Regions from separate parts of the Homo sapiens genome. Here all the other regions are reported to be linked to region 3. Evidence: microRNA targets listed by miRTarBase, many of them from high-throughput screens and not tested one by one. Region 3 holds a microRNA gene; each other region holds the end of a gene's coding sequence.
Evidence for each region. The annotated mature microRNA hsa-miR-4470 reads UGGCAAACGUGGAAGCCGAGA and lies in region 3 at 2,094-2,114, shown strand. An mRNA with a match to its seed (bases 2 to 7 or 8) in the 3' UTR can be bound and repressed. Matches are read on the target gene's strand: a 7mer-m8 pairs with bases 2 to 8, a 7mer-A1 pairs with bases 2 to 7 and ends in A, and an 8mer does both.

Region 1 (5,869 bases), not on the chromosome of region 3:
CCCATACTACACATAAAAAAATTGATACTGGAGAGAAACCATACAAATGTGAAGAATGTGGCAAAGCCTTCAACCGGTCCTCACACCTTACTACACATAAGATAACTCATACTAGAGAGAAACCCTACAAATGTGAAGAATGTGGCAAAGTCTTTAAGTACTTCTCTAGCTTTACTACACATAAGAAAATTCATAGTGGAGAGAAACCCTACATTTGTGAAGAATGTGGCAAAGCCTTTATGTACCCCTATACCCTTACTACACATAAGATAATCCATACTGGAGAGCAACCCTACAAATGTAAAGAATGTGACAAAGCTTTTAACCATCCTGCAACTCTTTCTTCACATAAGAAAATTCATACTGGAGAGAAACCGTACACGTGTGATAAATGTGGCAAAGCCTTTATTTCATCCTCGATCCTTAGTAAACATGAGAAGATTCATACGGGAGAGAAACCCTACAAATGTGAAGAATGTGGCAAAGCCTTCACCCGCTCCTCACACCTTACTATGCATAAGATAATTCATACTGGAGAGAAACCATACAAATGTGAAGAATGTGGCAAAGCCTTTACATGGTCTGCAGGCCTCCATAAACATAGGAGAACTCATACTGGAGAGAAACCCTACAAATGTGAAGAATGTGGCAAAGCGTATACTACATCCTCAAATCTAACTGAACATAAGACAACTCATACTGGAGAGAAACCTTACAAATGTAAAGAATGTGGCAAAGCTTTTAACTGGTCCTCAGACCTTAATAAACATAAGAGAATTCATATTGGACAGAAACCAAGAACGTGACAAAGGATTATTTTATTATTATTATTTTTTTGAGAGGTAATTCTGCTGTTGTTTCCCAGGCTGGAGTGCAATGGCATAATTTTGGCTCACCACAACCTCCACCTTCTGGGTTCAAGTAACTCTCCTTAGTAGCTAGGATTACAGGGCTGCACCACCACACCTGGCTAATTTTGTATTTTTAGTAGAGATGGGGTTTCTCCATGTTGGTCAGGCTGGTCTCAATCTCCTAACCTCAGGTGGTCTGCCTGCTTTGGCCTCCCAAAGTGTTGGGGTTACAGGCATGAGCCACTGTGCCTGGCTGACAAAGCTTTTTAAGGAAGTTCTCAACCCTTATTACACATAATTCATACTGGACAGAAACCCTACAAGTGTGAAGAATGTGGCAAGCCTGTAACAAGTTCTCAATTCTTTTATTTTTATTTGTTTATTTATTTTTTGAGATGCAGTTTCACTCTTGTGACCCGGGCTGTAGTGCAATGGCATGATCTTGGCTTACTGTGACCTCTGCCTCCTGGGTTCAAGCCATTCTCCTGCCTCAGCCTCCCAAGTAGCTGGGATTACAGGTGCCACCACCATTCCCAGCTAATTTTTGTATTTTTAGTAGAGATGGGCTTTTGCCATATTTGCCAGGCTGGTCTCAAACTCCTGACCTCAGGTGATCCACTCGCCTCGGCTTCCTAAAGTGCTGGGATGACAGGCATGAGCCTCAATTCCCAGCCATAAGCTCTTAATTCTTAAGAGACATGGCGATAATTCATGGTGAAGAGGAACTTTACAAACCTGAAAGATGTGACAGTGCTTTTCCCAACACCTCCAACTTTTCTATGCATAAAAAAAATTATACTACACCATAGAAATGTATGAAATGTGACAAAGCCTTTATATGGTTGCCACACTTTATTGTAGGTAATTCATACTTCCAAAATACCTACAAGTATGAAGAATGTGGCAAAACTTTTAATCAGTGCTTACACCGTATTTCACAGGAAAGCTATTATCCTTGAGAAAAATTGTACAAATATAAAGAATATGGAAAAGCCATTAATGTCCATCACATCTTACTCAACAGAAGAAGGTTCATAAAAGAGCAATTACTGTGACAAAAATCTTTCAGAAAATATAAGCCTTTAAGGTGAAGAAGAGTATTGATTCTGAAGACAAGCATTACAAATATAAAGAGGTTTGTAGTACCTTTGCTTGTATTACAGATCTTATTGCCCGCGTTTTGTATTAGAAGGAAACCCTAAAGCGGTTGCCAAACTTTGTGCAACATCAGGGAATGTATATTGAAGAAGATTCCTGCAAATGTAATGAGTTTGGAAACACTTCTTAGATAAATTATTTGTGGCTGGGCACAGTGGCTCATGCCTGTAATCCCAGCACTTTGGGAGGCCAAGGTGGGAGGATCACCTGATGTCGGGAGTTTGAGATCAGACTGACCAAAACGGAGAAACCCAGTCTCTACTGAAAATATAAAATTAGCCATGCATGGTGGCACATGCCTGTAATCCCAGCTACTCAGGAGGCTTGAACCCTGGAGGCAGAGGTTGTGGTGAGTCGAGATCATTGCACTCCAGCCTGGGCAATAAGAGTGAAACTCTGTCTCCAGGAAAAAAAAAAATTTATTTGTGTATAACTTTAAAAGCAGATTTTTGGAAGCATTGTAATTACATTAAAAGTATACTTGTTCCAGCTGCGTGTGGTGGCTCATGCCTGTAATCCCAACACTTTGGGAGGCCAAGGCAGGTGGATCACGAGGTCAGGAGTTCAAGACCATCTTGGCCAAGATGGTGAAACCCTGTCTGTACTAAAAATACAAAAATTAGCCATGCATGGTGGCCGGCGCGTATAATCCCAGCTGCTTGGGAGGCTGAGGCAGAGAATTGGAATTGCTTGAACCTGGGAGGTGGAGGTTGCAGTGAGCCGAGGTTGCACCATTGTCCAGCCTGGGCAACAGAGCAAGACTCCATCTCAAAAAAAAAAGTGTATTTGTTTCCTTAAAAAAATTTTTCTGAAAAGTGGGTAATGACATAATACAGCTTTCAAATTACTTTATGCTGTTATTTTATTCTTATTGTATTCACATGTGAAAGCATGTGATCAATTTTTGCTGCATCAGAGATATTAGAGATAGTTTTTTATTAATTGGGCATTTATGACCTTTTCTATAAAAGTAAGGACATTAAAATGTAAGATGCATGATGAAAATATAAGTGGAGAGGCTCTTTGTAGTTAACCTATATGAAGTAATGTATAAGGTAGGTCAGAGTAATACTTTTCTACATTATAGTGCAAGAAATAATTATTGATAAAAGTATATTAAACTAAATTCGTATATTTTACTTATTGTACTTTTATGTAATAAAATGCAGTGCATTTAAAAATTGTTAGATTATGTGTGAATTTAATTTTATGTTTTTTACCATGTTAAGACTATTGTGCATTTAATGAAGCATTATTATGCCACTAACCTATCCCACCTTACTCAAAGGTGTAGGTAAAAGATGGTAGCAATATACTATTTGGTACATAATGGAATAATGTCTCTAGTAATCACTTTGCCAGTGGCTTTAAACAGCAAATGAATTTAAGAATATTGTTCCCATAGGTTAAATTTTTATTCTCTTTTCTTACTGAAATTTATTATTAGTATTTGTGAGTATATAGTATATGTATATATTTATGCTTTATATGGCATATTTTGATTCAGGCCTATAATATGTAGTAACTACATTAGGGTAAATAAGGTATCTATCACCTCTAGCATTTATCCTTTGTATTAAAAACAGTGTAATTATATACTTTTAGTTATTTTAAAATGTACAATAAATTGTTATTGACTACAGGGTTATTTTTATGATCATAATAAAAATTATACAGAAATATAAATAAAATACAGCCAGGCCCAGTGGCTCATGCCTGTAATCCCAATACTTTGGGAGGACAAGGCAGGTGGATTGCCTGAGGTCAGGAGTTCAAGACTGGCCTGGCCAACGTGGTGAAACCTCGTCTACTAAAAATACAAAATATAGTTGGGCATTGTGGTGCATGTTTGGAGGCTGAGGCAGGAGATTCACTTGTAACTGGGAGCTGGAGGTTGCACTGAGCTGAGATTGCACCACTTCACTCCAGCCTGGGCAACAGACTCAATCTCAAGAAAAAAAGAAATAGAAATCATACATATACTGAAAACTTATTAATAAATGTTTGTTATATGGTTTTCTTTGAACATGTGGTCTTTGCCTGCAAATGTAGACTTTCAGTGTTAATTTACATCAGTTAAATATACACATATTACTCTGAAGATAAACCTTAGATGTAAGAAACTTATGGAGTGTGTTTGTGTGAGCATGAGATTGTACATATTTTCAGAAGAAAAGAACAATTATTGGAACAAAACAAATTATTTTAATAAGGTGGCTAATAAAAAACTAAGCTCCTTGAGAATGCTGAAAGCAAATCTATGCTTTCTGCTTTGTCTTGAATTTATTAATATAAAATTTTATGGCTTATGTTTCAAATTTTTTTCAGAATCTGTCTATTAAAGTACAGGCAGCTTTGTCTCCAGAAACAACGCTCTTGAGTACAACAATAAAAGCCCTCTTCAAACAGAAAACAAATAATCATAGTTAACACTTGTTTTAATGAAAATTCAACCAAAATTAAATAATTAGATATATTTTTATTGTCCTATGTGTGTGTGAATGTATAAAATGGTGCATAAAGGAAAAATATGCCAGAAAAAAAGTTAATATTTGTAATGAATAAAACTGGAAATTAGTTCATTATTTGCAGGTGATATCTTTGTTTATGTAGATAACAAAAGCAGCAGAAAACTTTCACGGAGTCTCTCTCTGTTGCCCAGGGTGGGGTGGAGTGCAGTGGTGCGATCTCGGCTCACTGCAAGCTCCGCATCCCGGGTTCACGCTGTTCTCCTGCCTCAGCCTTCCGAGTAGCTGGGACTACAGGCGCCCGCCACCACGCCCAGCTAATTTTTTGTATTTTTAGTAGAGACGGGGTTTCGCCGTGTTAGCCAGGATGGTCTTGATCTCCTGACCTCATGATCCACCCGCCTTGGCCTCCCAAAGTGCTGGGATTACAGGCGTGAGCCACTGCACCCGGCCAAAACCTTTTTTTTTTTTTCCAAAGAATTATAAATAGAAGATTCTAAAGAGAAGTTTTTAATAAATAAGCATTTAAAAGAAACTAGGGTTACTTGTTATGTTTAAAATATATGCTGTTCTCACACAAAATGAAACTGCTGAAATCCAAATTTAGAAGCAAAGAATAGACTTAAATTGTTAAACATAGAAAATATAAATATATACTTTGAAGAACAGGATTAGGCACCTTGATACGTGAAAGAAAATATTAGGAAATAAACTATTTTATTCTTCAGATACAGGCTGAAGAAAGTAGATGAAAACCCTGTAATTCCTTTTTGCCTGCAGCAAACTTAAATTTATAAGTAATTATTTTGGTAAATATGGAGTGCCTACTAATTATGTAATTTACTTCATGCATAACATGCAAATTCTAGCATATTGTCATAAATAAATCTAAAATTACAGACAAATTTGAAATAGAAAATAGTCAAAATGTAGAGGGCGAGTGACATCAGTAAGATGAAAGATTAAAAGTTCCCTAATTTTATATCCCCTTACAGCAAAAAACATCGGCCATCCCTGACAAAAATGCCTTTATTGGCTGGGCACAGTGGCTGATGCCTTTAATCCCAGCACTTTGCTGAGATCTGCTGAGACGGGCAGATCACGAGGTCAGGAGTTTGAGACCAGCATGGCAAACATGGTGAAACCCTGTCTCTACAAAAATACCAAAAAAATAGGCAGTCATGGTGGCACACGTCTGTAATCCTAGCTACTCAGGAGGCTGAGGCAGGAGAATTGTTTAAACCCGGGAGGCAGAGGTTGCAGGGAGGTGAGATGGCACCACTGCACTCCAGCCTGAATGAGAGAGTGTCTCAGAGAAATAAATAAATGCCTTTATTAGAAAACCAGGCATTATGGCTCACACTTGTAATGACAGCTACATGGTACATTAAT
Region 2 (5,869 bases), not on the chromosome of region 3:
GCTGAGGCAGGATTGCTTGAGCCCAGGAGTTTGAGCCTTCAGTGAGCTATGATCGCGCCACTGTACTCCATCCTGGGTGATGGAGCGAAGAACCTGTCTCTTAAAAAAAAAAATTTTTTTTTAATTAAAAAAACCCACCCTTTTTCATTTCCCAACATTTTTTGGCTATTATGATCGCTATGTGTTCCTTCAAATAATTTCCAGTGAATCCACACTTGATGTTGCAAAGCCTAAGTTTGCTGCAGAAATACAATTTCCTACACTTCATACCTAAAGGAGATTCAGAGCTATCGCTCAAAACCAAAAGTCTTGGTTTTTAAATGTGCTTAGACAAAAAAAATCAGGAAAGGTACCCTAATCGTTCAACAGCAATCATCTTTGGGGAATGGGCATTTTGGTAGGTAAAGTGTGGTGGACGTCCTTATTATTATTTTTGAGACAGTGTCTTGCTCTGTCTCCCAGGCTGGAGGTCAGTGGCACAAATCTCAGCTCACTCTAACCTGCACCTCCCGGGTTCAAGTGATTCTCATCTCAGCCTCCCAAGTAGTGTGAACTAAAGGCATGTGCCACCACGCCTGGCTAATTTTTGTATTTTTAGTAGAGACAGGGTTTCACCATGTTGGCCAGGCTGGTCTCGAACTCCTGGCCTCAAGTGATCCACCCACCTCAGCCGCCCAAAGTGTTGGGATTACAGGCATGAGCCACCATGCCCGGCCCCTTATTTTACTTTATCCTCCTGATTATTTGAATTTGTTACACTAAGCATGTATTTTATAATCAAAAATAATTAAGATTTAAAACAATGTATTTGACTACTAAAAAGCAAATTATATAAATCAGTTGAATAATAATGTTGTTAAAGAGGCTGTTTAGCACTAATTTGACCAAATCTATAGTCAAAGTTTGATTCTACTTGAATTTTTTGGAAATTTGCTGTTGTATTACTTATTCTTTGCCTTGTTCTCTGTGAAGTCCTTTCCTAAAAAAGAAACTTATACAATTTAGTTCACAAAACTTTGTTGACCTCTTTCTCTGTAGAAATGAAAACTAAATATATATAATTGAGAAATAATTCTGATACTCTTCATTCCTATAAAAGTAATTAAGATAGACCTATAGGATTGTTGAACTTTGCTGCCAAATATAGTAACCAGTAACCACAGCTAGCTGTAAAATTGAAAATTCAGTTCAGTCAAACTAGCCATATTTCAAGTGCTCAACAGCCACTGGTGGCTATTGGTTACCTTACTGACCAGCCAATATAGGCTATTTCCGTCATTATAGAAAGCTCTATTGGACAACATTGGTCTAGGACATATATTTTGTATTTTCCCCTCACCCACCATCCAATAATGAGTAATAGCACAAAGTAAAAGTGACTTAATTTGAAATTACTTCTGTTTGGCTAGTTTGCTTAGCTGATCACCACCAACATCATAGGTCTATAAATCACCCAACTAAGATCAGGGGTGTTTCATGGGAAAATCTACACAAACTATTCATTAAAAACCATAGAGCCATGGACTGTCATTTCTGATTTCTGTTTGATTCTTTGTGGTCATCATTGAATATACAGGGGCCTCTATACACTCTGGGGAGTATCTATTCTCAGGTGAGCAAAATACCGAATACTGAATGGAAATCAACTGTAAGTATTAGGACTTCATATGCAACTTGAATTTTTGGTGCTGTCCGGAGTCTAGAGCCCCACAATCTGTTTTGGTTACAGTTTATCCCTGTAGGATAAATGATCCATTTAACTATTCATCAGAGGTGCTGTAATTTTAAATTGTCTCTTGTCTCCTTCAGTTAATTTTCAGAATTAAAAACATACCATGGGAAAAAAGCTTGAAGTTTCTCTTTATTGGTGAGGTAAGGAATACTTTTGTTTTAGCCATTGAATGTTAAGCTCTAAAAACCAATCTTTAGCTATAAAGACATAAGACAAAGTCTATATTTAAAACATACAAGCTGGTTTCTTCTCATTTCTAGCTCTCTTCCAAGTTCATTTTTCTTACTACATAAAACTAGTGCCTTTTTGATAGGCCAAGTCCCAGGAAGGACAGACATTGTTCTTACCATTCCAACTCTCACTGAGGGTGGAAGAGAAACCCTCTGTCTGTAGTTTCAGGTTCCCAGATCCTTCATATATATATATATATATATATATATATATATATATATATATATATATATATATATATATTTATATTTACATATATATATATTTATATTTACATATATATTTTTATATATATTTATATATATATTTATATTTATATATATTTATATATATAATTTTTTACAGTCCAGAGATCTTTTATTAACACTTATTATGCCATGAATTCATACGGAATAAGTTCCAGCAGCTCAGGCTCCTTCCCATTGGTTCTCACAAAGTGTGCTTCTCTGGGTGGAGCAGGCTGGCACTTCAGTTGAACCCAGGTAACTTTCTCTCTTTTTTTTTTTTGGAGACGGAATCTCGCTGTCACCAGGCTGGAGTGCAGTGGCGCGATCTCAGCTCACTGCAACCTCCGCCTCCCAGGTTCAAGCGATTCTCCTGCTTCAGCCTCCTGAATAGTTGGGACTACAGGTGTGCGCTACCATGCCCAGATAATTTTTGTATTTTTAGTAGAGACAGGGTTTTACCATATTGGCCAGGATGGTCTCGATCTCTTCACCTCGTGATCTGCCCGCCTGAGCCTCCCAAAGTGCTGGGATTACAGGCGTGAGCCACCATCCCTGGCAAACCCAGGTACCTTTCTCTTTGGCTTCTTTTTTTTTTCTGATCATTTTCCTCATGCATTTCAGGAAGCTATCTCGGCTCTTAGAGTGCTTCATGTGCTCAGTATGCACATTAATGCTCTTGGCAAGAATATTGCCCTTGTTTATTTACAACAATGCCAACAGCATGCTGGGTAACACTGTAGACTCTTCCAGTTTTGCCATGGTAACACTTGTGGGGCATTCCTTTTTGAACAGTACCCATTCCCTTGATGTCTACAATATCACCTTTCTTATAGATTCGCATATACGTGACCAAAGGAACAACTCCATGTTTTCTAAAAGTCCTAGAGAACATATATCGGGTGCCTCTCCTCTTTCCGTTTGTGTTCATCATTTTGGCAAATTACTGGAAGATGGGGGTTCTGGCCAAAAGGCTGTGTATCTTATATATGTATGTATATTCAATACTTGAAATAATTTTTGTTACAAAGAGCTAGTGTCATCAAATGCTAATTCACAGAATGTGGCCTGAATTTTATTTTACTGATACCATTTATCTTAAAATAACTCTTCTGATATCCACTTAGAGCATCTCCAAACTGGTATTAGAACCCAACCCTCAGTACTAGTGGAGCTTGAATTCCTTTCCATGGGTCCCATGTTTTTGGCTTGGATACAGAAACTTCTAAGTGGAGCTACAAAGTGAAAATATGAAGCTGCAATTCTAAAAAGCCGCACAGTCAACTTCTGTGCAACAATACATCAAATAACCTAGTGTTTTCTATGTGGCTGACCATAGGAACTGAAAGTGTTATTAGAACTGAGGACAATTATAATGGCTTTCTGCTTAGACACATCACACCATGATTTAGAACAGAATAAGGAAGGGAAATAAATCTAAAACAGAGTAAGAGAAAAAGAATGTTATCCCCTCTCTCAAAATAAAGTGTGAATGGAGGGCACGGAGTATATTTAGTTTCAGTTAATGCTATAACAGAATACCATAGACTGGTGGTTTATCAACAACAGAAATTTATTTCTCACAATTCTGGAGGCTGAGAAGTCCAAGATCAAGGTGCTTACAGATTTGTTTTCTGGTGAGGACCCACTTCCTGGTTCGTGGATGTTTGTCTTCTCCCTTTCACATGGCAGAAGGGGTGATGGAGCTCTCTGGGTCTCTTTATATAAGGGCACTAATCCCATTCATGAGCGCTGTTACTCTCCTGACCTATCACTTACCAAAAGCCCCACCTCCAAATACCATCACATTGGAAATGAGATTTCAACATTAGAATTCTGGGGGCACACAAACATTCAGTCTACTGCAGACATTAAATAAGAATCTAGGGTAAATTCTAACAAAGAATACATTTGAGTTAAAGAGTGAAACATAAGACTTTAAGAAAGAAGGAACAGTGAAAATATTCTTTAGAATGAAAATGATAGTATTTATGTACTGAAAATATGTCCTTGACAGTAGTCATTGGGTTTGAAGTAAGTATGGTAGCATAATCTCCTAAAAGAACATTTCTGATACAAAAAGGAATTAATATTGTGCGGAAAAGGCATGTTCCACTCTCCCCCAGTCATACCCCAAGTTTGCACTCTTTGCTATTCCTGCCTTTAACCCCTTCTAATTTCTTTTCAATGAAACCACTGAGAAAGTAGGAAACAGAAAATGGTGGTAGTGAACCAGATATAAAAAAAAACTTCCAATGAAGAACTTAATAAATAACTTTAAAAAGAACATTTTTATACTCTAGCCATTATCATAGTACTTGGTAAATACGGGTATGTTGGCATCTTTTTCCTTGACCCATCAGAAGTCTTGAAAGATGTGGTCCTCCGGAGTTTCAAAGTGTTTTATTTATTGAAGAATGAATTTCACTACTAACCTTATTTCTTTCATATTCTACTGGCTATTTTACCAATATAAATTTAGTCTTCATAAATAAAAAAAATATGTTTTCATAGCAGCAAGTCTACGTCCATTATTGTGAAGTTTGCTTTCAAGGAGATTTCGTGTTCCATCATGAATTAAATTATCTGCTCCCTAAGTAACTTCATTTGCAAAATGTCAATAAAGTTCATAGCTCTCTATTAAAATTCGAGCCACTCTGTCATGTAAATACAGTTAGATGGTGAAATCTCACCACCTTCGTGGCAGTCATCAAAAACCTTTAAAAAAGAAAAAAAAATTATATTCAAATTAAAGTTTTAAAATATCTAAGACCCAACCACTTATTTAAAGCAAGATTAAAAACAAAACTTTCAAACTGAAAGGGACTAGGACTGTACTTAAGAACATATTATAGCCGGACGCAGTGGCTCACACCTGTAATCCCAGCACTTTGGGAGGCCGAGGTGGGTGGTCAAGACCATCCTGGCTAACATGGTGAAACCCCGTCTCTACTAAGAATACAAAAATTAGCTGAGCGTGGTGGCAGGCACCTGTAATCCCAGCTACTCGGGAGGCTGAGGCAGGAGAATTGCTTGAACCTGGGAGGCAGAGGTTGTAGTGAGCCAAGATCGTGCCACTGCACTCCAGCCTGGGCGACAGCAAGACTCCATCTCGGGGGGCGAGGGGGGAGCGGGAAGAACATACTATAATAGGGCCTGCTTTGTGATCATCAAGTTAGGAGTAGTAGAGAGGCTTTTTTTACTGTGGCATTAAGATGACCATGCTCACCTGTCTGCTGGGCAAAAGGCTATCACCAGGTAACACAGGAATATGGGCAGGGAGACCTATACATATGAATGACTTAATTTTGATTAACCAAATGTTTCATGTTTAGCTACCTTTTTGTGAAGGGTGCAAAACAGAATTCCTAATATGTTAGCCTTTTGTCTAGGGACTGAAACCAAGGCATAGAGAGCTTAGGCATATAGACAAAGGTTGGTATAATGAAATAAAACACACACAGGCTCATCTATAAATGCCATGAGGACTGGGACAGTGTCTCTTGCTTTCTCTTGTATCCTTAGTGCCTAGAGCATAGAGTTGGCACTTACAATATTTGGGAATGAATGAAGGAGGAGTGCTGGGGCATGCTGCAGGGGAAAGACATGATCTCTGGGTTTGAATCCCGGTTACTTCTAAGCTGTATGCCCCTATGTCTTCCTAAGCCTAAGCTCCCTCACT
Region 3 (5,869 bases):
CACATTTCCCAGTATTAGTTCTCACCAATAAGAGGCCATATAAAGTGACTTCCCTCAGATGCAATCAGCCCTCTCCTCATAAACACAAAAATGAAATGGAACGAAGACATGCTTCTCTGGCAAATAGCTACAGAAACCTTTTGAAAACAACTAACATTAAAGTTGTTCATCAGCTTTCTCTGCTTAGTGCCCTTAGAGGCACAATGAGAAGAACCCATTCTCATTTAGGGATGTTAAAAAAGAGTAGCCTCAGTCGGCTGAGGCAATTAATCTATCCCTCTGCAGGTTTAAGTAAGTGACATTTAAGAACAAGTGAAAAAGGAACACAAACTTTCACTTATGTCAAAGGTGAATTAATATGCTTGCATTGAACTTCAAACTGTGTCTACATCTTTACTTTTAGAATACAAATATTAGTCCTTAGAATGTAAATTTGTGCAATGGATTTAATGCACTACTTTCCCCATTTAAATCCATTCATTCATTCACTACTCAAATATTTATTGAGCACCTATTATGGGAAAGGAACATTCTAGGAGCTGGGGATACAGAGAGAATGAGCCAAAGACAACACACATGAAAGTAATAAGACAAGTTCAGATAGTGACAAGTGCTATAAAGAAAATACTTCTTTGACTATAGCTGATTCATTTTCTTGGTATATTATGAATGCATGATCTGAAGATCTCAGAAAACAAAGAGTCTAAATCACTTCAAGTGAAGTTTACAGCTCACATTCCATACACATGTGTATTGCAGTTTCAATATCCCAAATATGAGTCAAAGGAAGTATAAAAGAAACCAAGAATCACTGAAATATGAGACGAAACAGATTTAAAAATCTGTTCTCTCTGCTGGATATGCACACGGACGAGGAGAAAGGTGAATATCCAATCGATTTTTATTTTAAGTAAAAGTGGTAAAAATACAGACGCTCGTTCAGTATTTCATGACATTCTATTTTAAAGGCAACTGCAACGCATATTAAGAAAGCTACATACAAGCAAAAATATTTAAAATAATTTCTGAGAGCATTCAAATCACTCCCAACTTCTTCCCTCCCCCTGCCCCCCGGCGCCCCCATTTTCACCTCCTTTGAGTTGCTCTGAAACGCTGCTGGTTAGGCAGGAACTCACTTTCCCTGACTTTGGCTCATTTTCAACTCCCCAAAACACGCAAGGCAAACGATAAATTGTTCTCTTACTCCCATGTTCAATTCCACGGAAAGCCAAGAAACAGTCGTTCAGCAACCTCTGTCTCGGCTGCGCCCTGCAGGTGAAGGAACCGCTGGGAAGGGGCTCCCCGAGACTAGCATCCCGAGGGCTCGGACCCCGGTCCGCCTGGCCCCTCGCCCGCCCGCCAGGCCCGCCGAATGCGGCCTCCGCCCCGCGCGCCTAAAGGAGGAGCGTCGCGGGGGATGGAGGCGGCGCGCGGTGGGACCTGGGGAGATGCACCCGCAGCGTCCGCCGCGCCAGCCGGCTCCCTACCCCGAGGCGAGGCCCCAGATCCCCGCCCCGCAGGGCCTCTGACCTCTCCGGGCCCCGGGGCTGCTGCTGCCCGCACTCGTGCTACCGCTGCCGGAGCCGCTGCTGCTGCTGTTGCCGCTGCTCTTGGCATTCTTACGCTGGGCCATTGCACGGTCCGCGGGGGCTGGTGAGGGCTGGCGGACCTCCTTCAGTGCGCGGGGGTACACACGCGACGCGGGAACCGCTGGCGGCGGCGGGCCGCTGGAGCGGGTTCGGGCCGCTGCTCCTGCAGCAGACCCTGTGCCTCAGCACCGCCTGCAGCACCTGGGAAGACTTCACCCGCCTGCCGGCTGCGCGCGCCCGGCCTCGCGTGTACGAACCTGTGACTCCCTCCCGGGGCGAGAGCGCGCGGCTCGCCGCCCGACGGCCACGCCCCTTCCCGGCCTCGCCCCGCCCCCGGAAGGCTGAGTGACGGCGCCTGGGACCCAATCGCAAGGGCCCTTACGAGGCGGCGGTACCCTGCCGCGCTCCCCGCCCCTGCTCACTTAGGGCTGTTCGGGCGCTACGCAGCTGCCTGTGAGCGCGAGCCTCTTTCGGCTTTCCAGTTTGTCTCGGTCCTTTGGAACGTGGCAAACGTGGAAGCCGAGAGGGCTCTCGCGAGCGTTGGCAGACCCCGCTCCATAGGGATGGGACAGGGCGCGGTGCGGAATAGGTGGACACGTGGGCCGCCCGTGGGCGGAGTGCGCCGCTTCTAGGCCTTTCACTGTGGATTTTGTCCCCTTTCCGTATACAAGGAAAGGAAGGAGTGCAGTCTCGCTTCTTGCGAAAGAGATCCCTATTTCTTGTCCTGATTAATACTAAGACATTTCTGGAATGGTGATATTAGGACTAGTTCAATGCTTAAACCGTAGTAGTTCATCCATTTGGTGCTGAAGCAGGAATTTAGTTCGTTTGTGCCATCAGTATTTTCAGATACTCTTAGTTAAGGAATGAAAATGCAAATGTGACACAAAAAGTTCATTTTCTTACCCTGGATGGCACCCTCTGTCTGAAATCCCTGGCTGCTTTGCTAACGCCTGGGCCTGTGCTGCCTGAGAATTCCCAACAGAGTATTAAAATGTCTTGGCACGTGGTTGAACCAGACAAGGACTTGAGATCAGCGACGTCTTTATCATCTTTGTGTCACCATTGCTAACACCATGCCCAATGTGTAACAGGCAAGCAAGAAATGCTTAGTGATTTGATACATTTCTGTCAATTGCTGAACCCACAGCTCTTGATCATGTTTCGTAGCAACCCCTGGGAGTGTCTCAGGAGGGCTCAGGGACCAGAGAGAGCAGTTGCATTGTGGCATCTGGTTTCATTCCTCTTTTCCAGCCCCACAAACCCACCCACCCGCGCCTTCAGAAGCACTCCCGCCTCCCCCCGGCCCCATGCCTTTTCACCTGTGGATGGTTGGATGCTGCTTGACCCTGCCCTGATGATGCACAGAAACCCCCCAAAGGTCATGTTGCAGAATAAAGAGAATGCCTTTCTTTACCTTTTGTCAAATAGTGTTAGGCTATTATCAAGAGACGGTGGGAGGGGAGAGTTCACAGAGTTTTTATTGAAGTAGCTCTCTCAGCTTTTATCTTGTGGCATCTCCTTCTGCATCCATATATCCTTTCTCCCATTCAGGGCCCCCTTACAACCCTCTATTATATTATCTCAATGAAGGAGGTGGAGAACTGGATTAAGAAATAAATCTGAGTGATGGTGCTTCATATAAAATAAAAATGAGAGCTAAATTTCAAAACACAATGCTCTAGCCACCCCCCACCCCCCACACCAAAGATATTTTTACCCTTAAATTCTCACAAAACCCTGTAGTCATATCAATTTTTTAAAGAAATTAGATACTGGAAGCTCAGAGAGATAAAACAAAGTAGGGTCACTGTATTAGTCCGTTTTCACACTGCAGATAAAGACATATCCCAGACTGGAAAGAAAAAGGGGTTTAATTGGAGTTACAGTTCCACATGGCTGGGGAGGCCTCAGAATCATGGCAGGAGGTGAAAGGCACTTCTTACATGGAGGTGGCAAGAGAAAATGAGGAAGAAGTAAAAGCAGAAACCCCCAATAAACCCATTAGGTTTCATGAGAATTAATTCACTATCACGAGAATAGCACAGGAAAGACCGGCCCCCATGATTCAATTACCTCCCTCTGGGTTCTTCCCAAAACACATGGGAATTCTGAGAGATACAATTTGATGTTGAGATTTGAATGGGATCACAGCCAAACTATATCATTCTGCCCCAGTCCCTCCAAATTTCATGCCCTCACATTTCAGAACCAATCATGTTTTCCCAACAGTCCCCCAAAGCCTTAACTCATTTCAGCATTAACCCAAAAGTCCACAGTCCAAAGTCTCATCTGAGACAAGGCAAGTCCCTTCTACCTAAGAGCCTGTAAAATCAAAAGTAAGCTAGTTACTTCTTAGATACAATGAGGGTACAGGTATTGGGTAAATACAGCCATTTCAAATGGGAGAAATTGGCCAAAACAGCGGGGTTACAGGGCCCATGCAAGTCTGAATTCGAGTGGGGCAGTCAAATTTTAAAGCTCCAGAATTATCTCCTTTGACTCCAGGTCTCATATCCAGGTCACTCTGATGCAAGAGGTGGGTTCCCATGGTTTTGGGCAGCTGCATCCCTGTGGCTTTGCAGGGTACAGCCTCCCTCCCAGCTGCTTTCACGGGCTGATATTGAGTGTCTGCGGCTTTTCCAGGTGCACAGTGCAAGCTGTCAGTGGATCTACCATTCTGGGGTCTAGAGGATGGTAGCAGTCTTCTCACAGCTCCACTAGGCAGTGACCCAGTATGGACTCTGTGTGGGGGCTCTGACCCCACATTTCCCTTCTGCACTGCCCTAGCAGAGGTTCTCCATGAGGGCCCTGTCCCTGCAGCAAACTTTTGCCTGGGCATCCAGGCGTTTCCATACATCTTCTGAAATCTAGGCGGAGGTTCCCAAACCTCAATTCTTGACTTCTGTGCACCTATAGGCTCAACACCACGTGGAAGTTGCCAAGGCTTGGAGCTTCCACCTTCTGAAGCCACAGTCTGAGCTGTACGTTGGAGCCTTTCAGCCACAGCTGGAGTGGCTGGGACAGTCACAAAGCTAGTAAGTGATAGAGGAGGGATGTGAACTTGGTTGGACTGGCTCCAGAGTCTATACTCCAAATTATTCCTCCTGGATAAGACATAGTTTTGAGTGGAGAAAGTCTCACCTGGCTCCCTTTTCGGTTAATGGATGTCTCCAGGAAGCCTCCTTGGTCCTACCTTCAAAGATAGGTCTGAAACCCAGTGGTAAGTGCTTATCAAAGCCTATCTTTTTAAGGAAATCAAATTTGTTTTATAGCTAACTCCAAAATGCCATTAAGTGATGCTTTGCTCCTGCATTTCCAGAAACTAAATCTGGTACCCCTGACAAGGTACATTGCTGTGTATCTTGGGCAATATCAGGCCAAAATAGAGGTTTTAGTAAATATGAATCACAGAAAGAAAGAGGCTACCTAGCGCTTTCTTGTATCCTGAGGAAACAACTATGATAACATTTATGTGCTCAGTATTATCGAATAAAACTTAAATCAGATGCCATCAGTTCTAGACACAGTTTCATTTCAGGGACTGAATTCCCTCAAGCTAAGTAACAGAACTATACATTTTATATCTGTCTGTACTTCCCATATTATGGGCATCAAAAAACGCAAAGCTTACTTAGGATTCATATATTTCTTTACAAAGGACATTTTCTCAGCATGGTTGTGAAAAAGACAAAGTATCTTAGTATCTTTTAAATTAAAGGAGAAGTCAAATGTCCCTTGTTAGCTTTTCCTCTTTTCTGTAATTTTCAAGCAAACTATGGGTGAAATAATGTTAAAAGGACCATAAAGACAAGACTTATCTAGGACAATTTATTAAAATACTAATTTAATAGAGCTTTTGAACTAGGTCAAATGTGTCTTTCAGGTATTTCCATAAACCTTCCACTGCCTTCAGTGGGATTTGCAAGTGAGAACTGGAGGACACGATTTGCCCTACTTCTTTTTTTTCCATTCTGATGACCCTTTACAACCTCCAGTCAAATTCCTTCCAAATTAATATTTCTGGACTTACTTATACCTACTATAGCATCGTTTTAAAAATTCCACTTTAACCTGCTTCCTAGAAAATGCCTCTCATTTTTATGCAATCTTCCTACTGTGAAGTTTTATTATTGCAAACTGGAACTGAGTATTTCCTCATCTTTATTTGCCATAGTAAGACCATAGTGGAAAACAATAAATTTCAACTGGTCATGATTCATTTATATGTTTTTCATATTATATTAGTGAAATTTGTTGCAACGAAAGGATATTGGTAA

Region 1: miRTarBase lists ZNF486 as a target of hsa-miR-4470. Seed matches in the 3' UTR shown: 7mer-A1 at 1,420-1,426 and 7mer-A1 at 1,429-1,435.
Region 2: the mRNA of POLR3F is a reported target of hsa-miR-4470. The part of its 3' UTR that is shown has no 7-base or 8-base seed match.

What each region holds. Positions count from the first base shown.
Region 1 is chr19:20,197,297-20,203,165 of GRCh38, forward strand. It overlaps ZNF486 (zinc finger protein 486), which reads left to right. Exons shown (of 4, transcript NM_052852.4): 4 at 1-3,192. The coding sequence ends at 806. All of the region lies in intron 5 of LOC105372310 (a long non-coding RNA gene), which reads right to left. It also overlaps the pseudogene LOC100419841. Among named protein-coding and RNA genes, the nearest start is that of ZNF486, 33 kb to the left of the region's middle.
Region 2 is chr20:18,482,517-18,488,385 of GRCh38, reverse strand. POLR3F (RNA polymerase III subunit F) reads right to left here. Exons shown (of 9, transcript NM_006466.4): 9 at 3,740-4,905. The coding sequence ends at 4,828. It overlaps RBBP9 (RB binding protein 9, serine hydrolase), which reads left to right. Exons shown (of 5, transcript NM_006606.3): 5 at 1-1,846. It also overlaps the pseudogene RPL21P3. Among named protein-coding and RNA genes, the nearest start is that of RBBP9, 12 kb to the left of the region's middle.
Region 3 is chr8:61,712,739-61,718,607 of GRCh38, forward strand. MIR4470 (microRNA 4470) reads left to right here and starts at 2,050; the gene lies at 2,050-2,121. It overlaps ASPH (aspartate beta-hydroxylase), which reads right to left and starts at 1,854. Exons shown (of 25, transcript NM_004318.4): 1 at 1,531-1,854. The coding sequence starts at 1,633. RefSeq lists silencers at 1,224-1,653, 1,694-2,063.